2 linked regions of the Homo sapiens genome follow. The protein of the gene in region 1 interacts with the protein of each later gene in a biochemical or structural test. Each region holds a gene or a part of one and is shown in the gene's direction. Other genes may lie near its edges. The genes, in order: DIDO1 and TNKS2.

Evidence for each region.
Region 2: the proteins of DIDO1 (region 1) and TNKS2 interact in a biophysical measurement, tested with the Homo sapiens proteins (one study listed by IntAct).

Annotation. Positions count from the first base shown.
Region 1 is NC_000020.11:62,923,312-62,931,130, reverse strand, and holds the start of DIDO1 (death-inducer obliterator 1), read left to right. Parts: upstream 1-4,625; 5' UTR 4,626-4,692; exon of another isoform or gene 4,693-4,699; intron 4,700-7,819. UniProt on the Homo sapiens protein: Putative transcription factor, weakly pro-apoptotic when overexpressed. Tumor suppressor. Required for early embryonic stem cell development.
Region 2 is NC_000010.11:91,842,804-91,850,611, forward strand, and holds part of TNKS2 (poly [ADP-ribose] polymerase tankyrase-2), read left to right. Parts: intron 1-2,115; coding exon 2,116-2,225; intron 2,226-2,948; coding exon 2,949-3,137; intron 3,138-5,579; coding exon 5,580-5,832; intron 5,833-6,708; coding exon 6,709-6,791; intron 6,792-7,808. UniProt on the Homo sapiens protein: Poly-ADP-ribosyltransferase involved in various processes such as Wnt signaling pathway, telomere length and vesicle trafficking.

The DNA of each region.
Region 1 (7,819 bases):
CATCTCTACAAAAAATACAAAAACTAGCCAGTTGTGGTGGCATGCACCTGTAGTCCCAGCTACTCGGGAGGGTGAGGCAGGAGGGTTGCTTGAGCCTGGGAGGCAGAGGTTGCAGACAGCCAAGATCACACTACTGCACTCCAGCCTGGCAACAGGGTGAGACCTTGTCTCAAGGAAAACAACAACACAAACTGCAGCTCATTCTTTCTAAAGGTATCTGGAAAATGACAGAACTGAGAATAACATCCAGATTCAGTTCCCTGCCATGAGAAGTTCCTTTTGCCTTGTTTGTGGATATTGTTGTCAGTTCATTGCAGCTGTCTTGAGTAACTTACAGAGGCTAATGTGACCAAAGAAAGATCCATCATCCCTTGTTGTTTTTCTAGTTAAAAGTCATAGCACAGGTTTCTGGTAACATACAAATGATAAGACACTGTCCATAATTCTAATTACAACAATTCAGTTTGTATAGTAATTTGGTACAGCATTAAAGGGGGTGATGCCCTCCTCCCATCTCATTTCCCTCCCTTTTTCCTATTTCACATTTATTCTTTTGTCTAAAAGACAGAAAATTGGTATGATTCTCATATGCCGCATAGAACGTGTAGCTCCATCACATCCCACAGCTTTCTAGAGGTCTTTGGGGTTGGAACACAAAGTTTAACTTCTGTTTCTGTTTTTCCTTGAATTCTTTTGTTTCCTGGCCCTTTTCCATCTTGCCGGTTCCCCTTATGTTACCCACTATCGTCCATGCTCTCCCTCTGTGTTGGTTGTCTCAAAACAGCATTCAGCGGAATTCATTGAGTGGGTGAATTCTGTGAAGTTGCCTTTTCTGGCAGTGCTGTTACTCAGTGATGCACAAACGTAGCATTTGCCCTTTGGTAGACAAAGATCTGTGTTTTTTTTTTTTTTGTTTGTTTGTTTCTTTGAGACGGAGTCTCGCTGTCACCCAGGCTGGAGTGCAGCGGGTTCAAGCGATTCTCCTACCTTAGCCTCCCGAGTAGCTGGGATTACAGGCGCCTGCCACCACGCCCGGCTAATTTTTGTATTTTTAGTAGAGATGGGGTTTCACCATGTTGGTCAGGCTGGTCTTGAACTCCTAACCTCAGGACCTCAGGCGATCCACCCACCTCGGCCTACCTAAGTGCTGGGAACAGGCTTGAACCACCGCGCCTGGCAGATCTGGTTAGTATTCTTCAAAGGAGCCAAAGGCAGTGCTTTCGTGTTTGCTTTGAGGGGAAGTAGTGGACGATTTGATTGTGACACCTTTTAGCATTGGTGAGTTGATTTATCTAAAATTAACTGTTAAAGTTAGCTGGCCTTATACAACGTAAAAGTAAAGAAAATTCATCAGTTTCTCAAAAAAAAAAAACAAAACAGTGGCTGAAGTTTTTGTTAGCAATAAGAAAACAGTAGGCATATATATATATATATACACTTTTTCTTTTTTCTGGGAATCCACGTTCTCCTCCTGGGTAAAGGAGAGGGTTGTATTTTGTGATTCCTTTTTCCTGCCCCAAGTGGCTGGCGATACAGCCCCCGGCGCGCCGGGCACTGAGGCCCTGGAGCACAGCGTGGGGGGCCTGGCACAGACACGACTCACGACCGGGCCGATCTCCGGCCAGAAAGAACTATGTTCCGGCCGCCCGGGTCGCGGGCCCGCGGTGCATCCCTGCAGGCCTCCATCCTGCCTCGGCAGAGGTCTGCAAGAATCCTGTGGGTGTCCCCCGGAGCGGGCAGAGGAGGAGCCCAGCGCCGAGGCCCAGGCGCGCCCCGCCCTCGCCCCTCCCCGTGCCCCTCCCCCGCTGCTCCCCTCCCAAAGGCCGAGACCTGGACGCTGCCCGGTGGCCTCGGCGGGGGCCCTGTCCTTGGCCGCTGCCTCTCTGAATCCCAGGTGAGAAGAATAAAACGTCCTGACGCTGTCCGGCTTCCGGTTCTTGGAGAGGACGGGCCGTCTCTGCCGAGAGAACTGTGCGGAATCAGGAAGCGCTGGTGCTCCTTCGCTTTCACGGGACTAAGCGAAATCCGGCTTTAAACGAAGTAAAGCCGGCTGCCTCCTGGAGTATTTTTGTCATAGTATTTTTATTTTGGGTCAGGGTATTCTGCTGCGGACCCTGAGTCTTAGGAAGGAGGCTTATAACAGCGGAAAGCCATTTTTTTTTAAGAATTGCTGAGTTTTCCGGATTGTACTTTCAAAGACTTTCCCTGAAACTTTGCGTGGCATGGGGGTTGCAGAAACTGGTGTCTACACATTACAAAAGTGTACTGTTTACACCTATTTGTGATGCACCCATCGTGTTTTTCTCCATGGACCACCTATTAAGCTTCCTGCTGGAGCGCTCTTGGCCCCCTTCCTGCTTTCTGGGCCACATCCTGTTGTAAATCGGTGCTACTTGTGGGGTTTTGTTTGTGAATTGGGGATATTTAAGGAACAATTTATTGAAACAACTGAAGAGTTTGTTTCCTCCTTTGGGTTTTACTTTTAAAATAAATTCGGTTAGGAAAAAGTATTCTTTTGCTAGTGGAGTTCAAATTCAAATACCCAGACTGTAGATTCTCCAAATGCCTTTCTCACCAGGGAGGGCAGCTCCCAGGAATAGTGACGGCAGGTAAGCTGGGATAAAGCTGACTTCGTCACCTTGTAGGTGGGGAAGGCCAGAGTGGATAGTCTGGCCAGGCCTCCACAGCCGAGCCAGCTTCTGCTGGGGGGCGGGGGAGATGAGAACGAGAGGCAGGTTCCAGTATCCTCTGGACTTGCAGGAAGGAAGGCATTCTGCGTATCGCTGAGCACTGCGGTGAGCTGAGTGAGGGTTCCCTTTCCTCATGTTTTCCTGCCTTTTTCTTCCTCTTGGTTCTCTTGTCCCTGAGCCGCCTTGTCCACTCTTTCTATTCCCTTAGTGCCTTTCCATCTATCTCTCCTGAGTGCCCAGCGTGAAACTGTACCCAAGAGTTAAAATCTCTTAAAAATCTCACCGTCTTGCAGAAACAAATTGTGGCTGGTTTAAAGATCCTCAGCTAAAGAGACTGGGCTGAGGTTCCCCCATACCAGTTGGATTTAGAGAGAGCCTCTTGTAGGGAGGCCTCATGTGGTCTTCACCTGGGCCTCAGCATGTGAGCCCTCCTTTAACAGAGAGCTTGCCCAAGATCTCACTGCTTGTTAAAGGTGGTCTCAACCCCGTCTGTCTTCTAAGCTTCCCACTACCCCATGTCTGAGAGCAAAAAGCCCTCTTTGCAACCTGAGATCACACTCAAGATGGAAGACTGTCAAGCCCATCCCTGCCAGATTCTATTAATGTGGTCCTAATGGGCCACACCAGCAAAAACAAGCTGCGTTGTATTCCTTTGAAGAAAACTAAGTCTGCCTCAGAAACTAGCAGACCCTGTAATCTTCAGCGGTATTATTAAAAAGCACACCTGCCTCAAAGCCCCTGGTTCATCCATGGAAGCATCGCAGAAGCCTCTGTATTAGGGGCAGCTTTACGGCACTCTGGGCCCCTTTTACTCTTGGCCAGGGCCAACGCCAAAGGCTAGATGGTCCATGCTTCCAGGTAGCGTATCACTGTTCACAGAAGCAGAAACAAGTAATGGGGCCACCTCCACCCCCCCCAGGTCCCTGCCCTCGGAGCAAGTGGCCAGTGCCCATGGTGCCTCGAGGCAACAGCTGCCCCTCCTGCCCCCTCCCAGTCTCTTTCCTGCAGTATCTGGGGACAGACAGGTGATAGAGTGTCACTCTAGTTACTATTGAGCGAACTGAAGAAAATCCACATGGAAGGTTGACATCTACCATACCTCACTTTCCCCTCTCTTGATAGTAAGTGTCTAATCTTTCCCTCCAACCCCTGTGGGCAAACATGTCCATGCGTTCTTTGAGTTCTAGCTACTGGTCAGTAGTTCTGAGTGTAGGATTGACATGGTGGGAGGAGGCAGAGCTTTGGGACCACACCGCCAAGGTCCCTGGGGCCTAGAGGTCCAGCGTGCCCGCCTCCCTTCCTCGCTGTGCTCCTTTCTCTCCCCCCCACCCCCACGCTCCTGGTTTCTGGAGCCGAGCTTGGGGTGGGGAGGCAGCAGGTAGGGTCTTCAAGTTGGAGAGAAACCCCGCCCACACCTGGACCTCGCCCCTCGCTGCCATTCCCAGCCGAGGCCGTCAGGGGCCTGCGTTTTGAGAAACACAATCTGGAAGAGAAAACCTGGGCCTTTTCTTCTTTTATCCCCTGTCCCCGCCCCCCTACACCTCTTACAAATTTAGCCCAGGAGCTTTCTATCCCCACCGACTTGAAGGGTTTATCGGTCTTAAGAGCGAAATCCTGGCGGAGTGCAGTCCCTCGGGGCTAGCATCCACGTTCCGCCTGCGCCCTGCCCGGGCTGTTCCGAGGGATCCCCGCAAGGGCACTGCCCCAGCTTTCACTCTTGGAGTCGGGGAAATAAGGTGTCCACAAAGGATGCAAGCAAGTCATTGTCAGTGCAGACCCGAAGGGCGCGTCCGGAGTGCAGGTATGAAAGACGGGCGCATGCGCGCAGTCCGGGGCCGGGCTTCGCAGCCCGGGCTCCGCTCTAGCCCCGCAGCGTCTCGGTGGCCGGTCTCGTCCTCCGCCCGCCGCGCGGGGGCGCCGCTCTAGCCCCGCGCCATCTCGGTGGCCGTCCGCCCACTCCGCGGCGTTCGGGGAAATGGCTGCGAGACCCTAGAGGCCTGCGGCCTGCGGTAAGTGGCGTCCCGGGCGCCGGGTAGAAGAGCCGGCCGCCGCTTGGGCCGCCCTCGGGAGCGGGGCGGGGCCGGCATCGGAGCCCGGCTGGCGAGAGCCGCGGATCCCGCACAGGCCGCTCCCGCCGAGAAGATGGCGGCCGCGGAAGGGAAGGAGCGGGCGGGCGGGCGGGCGAGCGGGCGGGGCCGGTCAGAGCCGCCGCGGCCTGGGGCGCGGGCCTCAGACGCCGGCCCTGGTGGGCTGCGTGAGGTCGAGGGGACTGGCGAGCACTCGGTGGTCGCGGCTGGAACGGTTCCGAGGGTGGGAGTCGGGGCGGCCGCTCGCGGGGAAGAGCGCAGGGCTGGCCTGGGCGAGTGCGGCCCGGGGCTCGGGGGCTGCGTAGCTGGCTTGTAAGCGCAGCTGGTTTCCCTAGGCATTCTCGGGGACCTCGGCGCTTCCTCCCGGGCCTTGGGTGCGGTCGGGGTGGCCGGCTTAGCTTCTGGCGTGCCTTCGGGGGATTCCGGCACTGCAGGGGCGGCTGGCGCTGCAGGAAGCGCGAAGAGCCCGGATTCGCTTTTCTGAAGAGTGTGTCCTTACCTCCCCGCGCTGGTTTTCAGTTTTTTTGTGGAATAGTTTGTTGCGTTGGTTTGTACTGGCCGTATTTGTGACACATTTTGCCTTCCAGTGACCCCGGAAGCCGAAAGGGCCCGCTCTTGCGCTCGGCGGGAGGGGTGCTCGTGCTGCCTCCGCTGCGGCGTCCGGGGCTCCTTCTCGCGGTTCTGAGACAGTGGAGGTCAAGGCCGGCTTTTCTGCTCTAAATAAAGGACTTTAATATATAAGTTTAGAGTTTGGGCCACAGGTAGCAGTAGCTTACTGCGTTACCAGTTATTGAAAATACTCTTTAACTTGTGCCTGGGCCTTCGATATCCGTGTCATCTGTCTGCTGATGGAATGAGATTTGAGCCTAGTGTACTCAGGGACTTAGAGGAGGGAAAGGCAGATGGGAACGTCTTTTCGGTATATTCACATAACTTTGCTATATACCCCGTGTTCCATGGTTTCCGTAGGGCCACATATGACTTGGTTGAAATACAGTTCTGAGAAAGGTCCTTAGCAGTGCCTTTTAAGGAGTAAATACAGTCTTTTTTTAAATGAGCATTCATTGCTTACTGTTAGCACGAGGGATACAGCAGTGACCAAGGTGGCCCCTGTCCCAGTCCTGGAGACAAGTTCACTGGGGAACTTGAGAGATTATTCCAGCTCCTTCCTTTAAATCAGGTGTTGCCAACTCGTTTACCTGGAGCCTAGGGCTCTTTAGTGGCCCTTTGGGTTGCTGTTAGTGTATGTGTGTCTGTGACTATTTCACTATTTTAAATACGGCATAGACATCTCAGAAGTGTCACCCAGGAAGACAGACACAGCCCTGTTGTGAAACTCCCTGCTTAATGCACACTTGTTTTCCTACTTGCTGTGTACATGGGGAGGAGATGTCTGTTCTTGTAGACTTGTTTCAGCAAGTTTCATAAGATACCTCTTGTTTTGGAAAAGCGCGTATCTTGAATTTTTTCAGGCTTTCCACCAGAGGCTGTCCCTTATTAGTAGTTGATTGAATTCAGACTATGTCAAGCAGAGCTCATTGTGCTGTGGTGAGAAGACAGGGCACAAATAAGATAATTTGTGATTGACTGCCCAGCCGTACCCATGGTTACCAGACAGCCCAGCCCATGTTGCATGTGCATATGTGAGCCTCGCAAAGGCTTGTCTAGGACGTGCGGATCATCGGTTGGGCCTTGGAGGGTGCTGGGGTTTCTTCATGTAAGGAGGAAATGATTGGAATGGGCATTGGCTCCCGTTTTGTTCGCGGTGAAGTTGGCAGGTTCTGCTGTTGATACTGTGAGTTTTTCTACAGCCTTAGGGTCATAATTCCCTTAAGGTCAGTTCTGTGGAGCCCAGTAGGGTGCTTCTCTTCAGTGTTTATTTTTAAGCTGTGCCACGTCTTCATTGTTTGGAATCTCTGTAAACAAGACACGTTTTTCCTTTTTATATGCCTGTCCCATAATACCAAGTGGCTTATTTGGCTCTTGAAGAGCTAAGATTGAAAGTGTTTAACAGGTGACTCCCTACTATCTGTGGGTCCCTGCACTGTGCCCTTGCCTGAGAGGTCTCATCTCTCTGGCAGGCTCAGAAGACCACTAGAAAATTCTCTCTAAACAGAGTCTCTCACTTACATTTCTTATTTAAATGACGGGGTCCCTTACAGTGGATACTAAGATCAGCCTTTTTATGACTACTATCAAATGATGTGTGTTAATTGCATTACAAAAGTTCTATAATTAACAGTTAATGGAAATGTACTAATTGGGAAAGAGGAGGTCAAAGAACAAAGTCCAGTTTGCTCATTTCATGTACGTGTACACAGTCATCTGTGAGACAGTCTGTGTTGTCTAGGCCTCATTTTATTTTTTGAGTAGTAATTTTGAGGTTAAGTTGTTATATGAAGTTGAATAGGTAATTGTACATATTTTAATAAGAATTCTGTAACCATGTCCATAAAACTTAATAGGCGGTTGTAATCGTGTGTAAGTTGTAAAGGAGGCATTTCTCTCCTTGGGTATCAAATTTTGATGCCGTGGTTTTGTTTTGCGTATGCTGATATAGACATTTAAGTGGTACTTAATATACCTTTATAATAAGGTAAATCAACTTTTTTTCCAAAATGAAGATACCTTAATGTGTTTGATTACAAAAGTAATACACATACAGGAAACTTAAACATTATGTAAAAATAGAAAGTAAAGACACTAGAAAGGGTGCTGTCCAGAAAAGCTCCACGTTACAGCTGTTTTGCACTAGTGAACGGGATGCGTTGGAGGCTGTGGCCACTGCCCTGGCCGGCTTGTCTGCGGCTCTCACTCAGGTGCCAGGGAGTTTTTCTCACGGCTGTGCATGTGATGATTCATCACCCTTAAAGAATTCCCGGCCGGGCATGGTGGGTCGTGCCTGGAATCCCAGCACTTTGGGAGGCCAAGATGGGTGGATCACTTGTCAGGAGTTCAAGACCAGCCTGGCCAATATGGTGAAACCCCATCTCTAACTAAAAATACAAAAATTAGCTGGGTGTGGTGGTACGTGCCTGTAAT
Region 2 (7,808 bases), on another chromosome or scaffold:
CTTCTAATGCCACCATTATACTCTTCAGTGTATTTGTACAGGACGACCGTACTTGAAGCTATTAGCTGAGTTCGAGTTCACTTTATTACTAGTATGTTACATTCAGTAAGAACAATTGAAGTAGGCTCTGCCAGTCCCCATGTGCTTTGGGAATCATTATTCCAGGTAATCATTTTATTGGTATCACCTTTGGTAAACAAGTTTTGAAAAATATGCCTACTTGAGCCAGCCTTCCTTATAGGAAGCTAAAGCTTTCTATTTTTCCTGATGGTAGCTGCTAAGCACAAGCAGGAAAAAAAAAAAATCTCAAAACTCTCAGAAGTTACATAAGCCTCTCACCAAAGTTATCTGTTGTTTTGGTTTGTGAGAGTTCTCATAACAAAATACCAAAGACCAGGTGGCTTAAACAACAGAAATTTGTTTTCTCACAGTTCTGGAGGCTAGGAGTCCAAGTTCAAGGTGTTGGCAGAGTTGGTTTCTTCTGAAACCCCCTCTTGGCTTGCAGCTGTCTACCTTCTCAGTGTGTCCTCCATTGGAACATGGTGTCTCTTTCTATATGTCCTAGTCTCTACTTTTAAGGAAACCAGTCAAATTAGATTAGAGCCCACCCTAATGGGCTCATTTTAACTTTTTTAGCTCTTTAAAGGCTCTGTCTCCAAATAGAGTCATATTCTAAGGTACTGGGGTTAGGGCTTCAACATAAGAATTTTGCAGGGTACAATTCATTTCGTGACATTTGTTTTAAGGTTTCACTCATAAAACTGGCACAGTGTACCTTTGTTTTCAGTGCAAATATACAATATATTGTGGTTTCAGTACAGCTTTTTCAGCTGCATTACAGATGTTAGGAAATCATTAAAATCACTGAGCTATAGCTAATACCTCAGTGGAGTTCCATCATAGACACAGCGGACTCATACAAGTTTGTCTAAATATACATGATTTAAACATGGTATAAAAAGCAAGAAAAAATAATGCAAAATTTCTGCCATTTCGTGTAATGTGGGAGATGGAAATGTATGATGTTCATTTCAGTCTTGTATTATAACTTGGTGTTATACATGATTTTTACCTTTAAATTCTCACTCCATGTAAGTTGAGACCTCACTGTCCAAAGAAACCAATTACTCTATGTGTCTTTCAAGTATTTTGGAAGTGATAAGCCACAAATGCTAACATGGTGAGAAAAAGCTTTACTTCCACTGGCTATCAGGAGTTTCTAGTCCATGCAAGACAAAATATGACTTGACCTTTGATTGGAAGTTGTGCTGTGCATATTTATGTTAGCTTTTATATCTTTCTTGTAGCCTATCTAGAACACTTAACATTACTGTGTCCAAGTTGTCTTTGTAAGTCACAAATAATTTGTATGCATAAAATATTTCTGTCCACTTCTGCAGCGTTAAATACCATACCTTGAGACCTAGAAAGACTTTTAGATTAATGTAATATTTTATGGTAGTTTTATAATTGTATTCTTCTTTACTTGATCTTTTTAAATTCTTTTGCTTTAAATCCTTTAGCAAAAGGATAAAAACTATAATAGAAATAAGTTTTATTTCATGGCTTTAACAGCACCTAAGTTCCTCTACTAGACTTGCAGAGATGTGTACCTCTGAGTTCTCTCTAGCAAAAAAGCATGCTCTTGTGGCCTTCTGGGGAAGAGGACTCTGAGGCCCACTCTGGTTTGACTTGTATGTGATTGCAGACCTTTGACTTGCAGCCTCTGAGACCCATGTACCTGAGTTCAAGAAGTGGTATGTAACACCCATGAAGGCAGAGACTTTGGTAGGAAGGTTTTCATAGGAAAGATACAAGCAAATCAGTCAATATAATTTTGGGAATCTACAAAGCTAATTGATAACACAAAAAGCTTCCAACTTGAGGCAAGGGGGAAATGTTTTCCAGAAGGTAAATTGTTAATAGAGTCCAATGAGCTATTTCAGATTTATACAAAATCTCTTTTTTTATGTTTTCAGTAATGTCTATGCCTTATAAATACATATATATATGTATACATGTAATGACTTTTTTATGTTAACAAGTGGAAGTATTATGACATAGGACTAAAAAAGAAAAAACAAGTAAAGTAATTTTACTTCTTTTCTAAATTAGCTGGTTATAATAATTTAGAAGTTGCAGAGTATTTGTTACAACACGGAGCTGATGTGAATGCCCAAGACAAAGGAGGACTTATTCCTTTACATAATGCAGCATCTTACGGGGTAAGTTCTTCCGTGTTACCTTTAAAAATTTGTGGAATTTTAAAGTGAAAGTCAGTATTGCAGCTCAAATGGAATGTAGTTTGATGTTCTCATTTTACAGAGAAGTAAGTGGCAGAGCTAAAGAAGTTAAATAACTTCCAAATTTCGGTTCTGAATCTGTTCTAAGCTTGCTGTGTGATATGCGGTGTATTGTTGTTTGTTTTATTATCTGCCTTAACACCTGTCTCTTATTTTCAGTGAGATGTTGGTGATTGTGTTTATTTGTTGGTACCCAGAAAATCCACTGGGGCACCAACGGGGTAGATGGAATCTGTACAGATTCAGATGCATTGTTCCTGACTTATCATAGTCCAATGTGACATTCAAAATTGACCATCTTCAATGGTATAGTTTGAATAATTGAGGAAGATTGCTGCTTTATAAATTGACATTTAGTAGTTATAACATTTGAATAAATTAGAAATTATTGAAGTCATATTAGTCTAGTTTCCTGCTAAATAGAATTCTTAACTCTTTTCTAGATAGTTTCTCAAGTTATTGAAATGTCCACTGTAATTTTTAATCAGCTACTCATAAGTTGTGATGTTGGGGAGAAAGAGTTTTTCTTTTCATTTCCAGAATAAGTTTGAAAATGTGGAAGTAGGTACGTAACTAGTTTCATTTTAAGAAAGTAAAGTGTGACAAAATAATATTTCAGACTGTAACGGGTATTTTCTTTTACAGCATGTAGATGTAGCAGCTCTACTAATAAAGTATAATGCATGTGTCAATGCCACGGACAAATGGGCTTTCACACCTTTGCACGAAGCAGCCCAAAAGGGACGAACACAGCTTTGTGCTTTGTTGCTAGCCCATGGAGCTGACCCGACTCTTAAAAATCAGGAAGGACAAACACCTTTAGATTTAGTTTCAGTAAGTGATGGGCTTTTTGAAAAATCTCAGTGCTTTTCTGACTTGTTAAAATTCACTTGATGTTATTATAAAATGTCTTTATAGTCAATGTGAATGGCAAAATCTGGGTTTTAGCCTGATTTTAATGTAAGAGTTCTTTAGTATTAAAATATAATAGAATTATAAAGTAATATAATTATCCTTCTGTAGAATAGAATTATCAATCAGTTATTATATACTGAGTATTTTGGAAATAGGAAAAAGAAGTACATGATATAACTGCTTACGTTAGTTAGGAAACTAAACAGACCCAGGCCCTCAGAAAATGCTGTTACTTATAGTGCATACAGCGCAGATGGTACAGACCATGGGTCTTACACACGGCCCCAACTGGGAACATTGCCCCCCAAGGTGCAGCCACAAACCCTGCTGCCAGTAGAGATTCCTTTTCCTCCCACACTGCCTCATCCCAGAGTTCTTGTTGCTCACCCTACCTTAACTGTTCATGAAACAAGTCTATTATCCACTTTCCTGTGGAGGTCCTGTTTTCCTTCCCCTCTCTCCAGAGCATGGAGCAGGTGTAGGAGCTTCCACTGAACCTTCCACCTCTGCTTTGGGCACTGAAGCAGATGCCTCTCTTGCCTCTACCACTGAGGACATTGACTAGAGCAGTGGAAAGAAAGGAGGAAGGAATTCTTTTTGAGATGAGAAGGAAGGGGAATCTTTTCTGCAGACTGCTTTCTACTGAGAAAGATTACATTGTTCCACATTACAATAAGAAACTGAGGTAGTTCAGCTGCATTGGTGCTTAAGTAGGTTTTTCTCAGTCAGCTAACAACCCAGCCATATTTACAACATTATCTCTTCAGGGAAATATCTTTCTAGTTCCAAGTTACCTTAAAAGTGAACATTTGGAATTCATTCCACCCATATGTTAGTTGACCAGATACAATTAAGTTACAATGAAGCAAAATGCTGTAGAGAACATACAGGGGCTTTAGAGTCAGACAGACTGGGCCTAGAATTCCAGCTGCACGATTTAAGTTGTACAATCTTATGAACTGCCTAACCTCTAAACCTTAGTTACCTCATCTATAGATAGAGGTAAAATATATCTGGTTAGTATGAGAATTAAATGGGGTAATTTACTTAAAGTCTTTGGCATGGTATCAGGTACATAAAAAGCACTCAATAAATGGTACTATTATTATAAACAAATGTCATTTACAAATTGTGAGTGCAATGGGAATGCATAGACTGGGGGAAGAGAAAGGTGATGACTGGAATAGTCAGAACAAATGACTATGAAACAAGTACTAATTTATTCCTTGCTGAACATTAGTTGAACGTTGTGAAAGAAGAGTACATATTACAAATTAAACAAATTAATGTACCAATAAATGTGAGGACTTTTTTCCATTCTAGCAGATTTTTTTTAATTTTTATTTATTATTATTTTTTTGAGATGGAAGTCTCACTCTGTCACCCAGACTGTAGTGCAGTGGCACAATCTGGGCTCACTGCAACCTCCGCCTCCCAGGTTCAAATGATTCTGCTGCCTCAGCCTCCCGAGTAGCTGGAATTACAGGCATGCGCCACCACACCCAGCTAATAATTTTTGTATTTTCAGTAGAAATGGGGTTTCACCATGTTGGCCAGGCTGACCTCAAGTGATCGACCCACCTCGGCCTCCCAAAGTGCTGGGATTACAGGCATAAGCCACTGCACCTGGCCCCATTCTAGCAGATTTGATTAAAATGATTATCTTTTCTACCCACCTCCTCTCCAAAAAACTTTCAGTTTTAAGGAACAAATACATTGCTGAATATTTTCCAGGAAATACAAACAATTCAGTTTGCTAAAGTTCTGTGTAGGTTGAATTACTTCTTTCAGAGTAACTACAATAGGACTAAAATCTCTTACCTTTTAAAATTGATATTTCTGTAATTCGTTGTGCTTCTCAGTCACAGTATCAGAATTAGGGTTTTGTTCATGCTTTGCCATATTTAAATTATATTTTGACAATATGTGTTTTGGAAGAGATGTTCTCAGTTATGTCTTATATTTTAATAACAGTTTAGCTGGATACAGGTTGAATATCCCTTATCGGAAATGCTTAGAACCAGATGTGTTTTCGGCTTTTGGATATTTTTTTCAGATTTTGAAATATTATACTCAAGCATTATACTTACTGTTGAGCATCCCCGATCCCCAAATCTGAAATCCAAAATGCTCCAATAAACATTTCCTTTGAGCTTCACGTCAACATTTTAAAATTTTCAGATTTGGGATGTTTGACCTGTATTAACCTGTTTGCTTCACTTTTTAAAATGAATAATCCTCCATTGTGATAGTACTGGCACAAATTGCTGGGTTTTCTCATATTTTTAAATATATTTTATTAGGTATAATAGCATTTTAAAACTTGCTTATGGCAGATGTTGTCTCTGACACGTACCCTAGGCGGATGATGTCAGCGCTCTTCTGACAGCAGCCATGCCCCCATCTGCTCTGCCCTCTTGTTACAAGCCTCAAGTGCTCAATGGTGTGAGAAGCCCAGGAGCCACTGCAGATGCTCTCTCTTCAGGTCCATCTAGCCCATCAAGCCTTTCTGCAGCCAGCAGTCTTGACAACTTATCTGGGAGTTTTTCAGAACTGTCTTCAGTAGTTAGTTCAAGTGGAACAGAGGGTGCTTCCAGTTTGGAGAAAAAGGAGGGTGAGACGTTCTACAAAAATAACTTTCTAACTGGTATTGTAGCCCCGTATTTGTCATTTGGGATGCTAAAAAGTCATTTTTAACCTTAAATACAAGGTATTAGTATAAAATTAGTTAACATAGCCTTAAAAAGGTTTAACCTTGTATTACTTTCTTCCTTCCAAGTTGACAGTTGAAGAGTCTTGTGCTACTAACCTACTATTTATTTATTTATTTTTGAGATGGAGTTCTGCTTTTGTCGCCCAGACTGGAGTGCAGTGGCGCGATCTCGGCTCACTGCAACCTCTGCCTCAAGGGTTTAAGCAATGCTCCTGCCTCAGCCTCCCGAGTAGCTGAAATTGCAGGCACCCACCACCATGCCCGGCTAATTTTTGTAGTTTTAGTAGAGATGGGATTTCACCATTTTGGCCAGACTGGTCTTGAACTCCTGACCTCAGGTGATCCACCCGCCTCGGCCTCCCAAAGTGCTGGGATTATAGGCGTGAGCCACCGCCCCCCGCCCTTAATCTGCTCTTTAGATGTAAACCTTTTCTGTTAAAATTCATCCCACCTTATGCAACAGTGTGGAGCTTGTTTTCATAAACTTTTTTGTGAAGTAGCTTACATCCTGAAAGATAGGAAAACTGGTTTTAAAAATATAGATGCAATTAAAAACAAAGTTTAAAATAAAAATGAGAGTACTGAGACTGCCCCATTGATTAGCTTTTTTCTAATGTTGAAATTTTGTAGCTTTCTCTTGTTCAGTATTATATCCTAAGTGGCTATTAATATTATTTTCTTCATATATAGTAACATTACAAGACTTTACTGTTATAGTGATGAAATACATTATTCTGATGTGAAATTCCATTTGTTTTGGATTTTTTTATTTCCCAGTTCCAGGAGTAGATTTTAGCATAACTCAATTCGTAAGGAATCTTGGACTTGAGCACCTAATGGATATATTTGAGAGAGAACAGGTGAGTAGATAAATCATATTGTTTGGATTAGTGTTTTATGGAAACTCAAGGAAAATTTGGAACATACTTGAAATGAGCTGAACCATGTAAGCTATTGGGGGAGAATGTTTTTTAAGAAATGACATCAGTCAGCCTTCTAATTTGGCTTGACCTTGAAACTTCCATTTAGTTTATTCGCACACAGTTGACTCGAGTAGTAATGGTAAAGTAGCTTTCTTGAATGGAAAGTTTAGCTTATTCAGTTCTTGAAGTAAGTTATCCTTGAGCACTGTCTATTCAGTTCTCTCTCAAGCCTGACACTTTTCTAGCTGCTATGGGAAGGTATATGAATATGCCAGCCATATCTGGGCTTTTCTAAGCAGTCTCAGTTTAAAGTACTCTGTCAGAATACATTTACTGATTTTTGTTGTTGTTCAGAAAATAATGTTACTGTAGATTTGCACTCTAAGGGACTTTCATTGTAGTTATGGAATTAGAATAAGAACATATGGCCGGGTGCAGTGGCTCACGCCTGTAATCCCAGCACTTTGGGAGGCCGAGGTGGGTGGATCACTTGAGGTCAGGAGTTCAAGACCAGCCTGGCCAAGATGGTGAAACCCCCGTCTCTACTAAAAATACAAAGAAATTAGCCAGGCATGGTGGCAGGCACCTATAATCCCACCTACTCGGGAGGCTGAGGCAAAGAATTGCTTGAACCCGGGAAGCAGAGGTTGCAGTGAGCCAAGATCACACCACTGCACTCCAGCCTCGGCAACAGAGCAAGACTCGGTCTCAAAAAAAAAAAAAAAAAGAACATATGAAAATTCAAGTTTTAGCATAGATTTTAGAAATTTGTAGAAGGGAGCCAGGCACGGTGGCTCATGCCTGTAATCCCAGCACTTTGGGAGGCTGAGGCGGGTGGATCACCTGAGGTCAGGAGTTCAAGACCAGCCTGGCCAATATAGTGAAACTCTTCCCTACTAAAAATACAAAAAATTAGCTGGGCGTGGTGGCGGGCACCTGTAATCCCAGCTACTC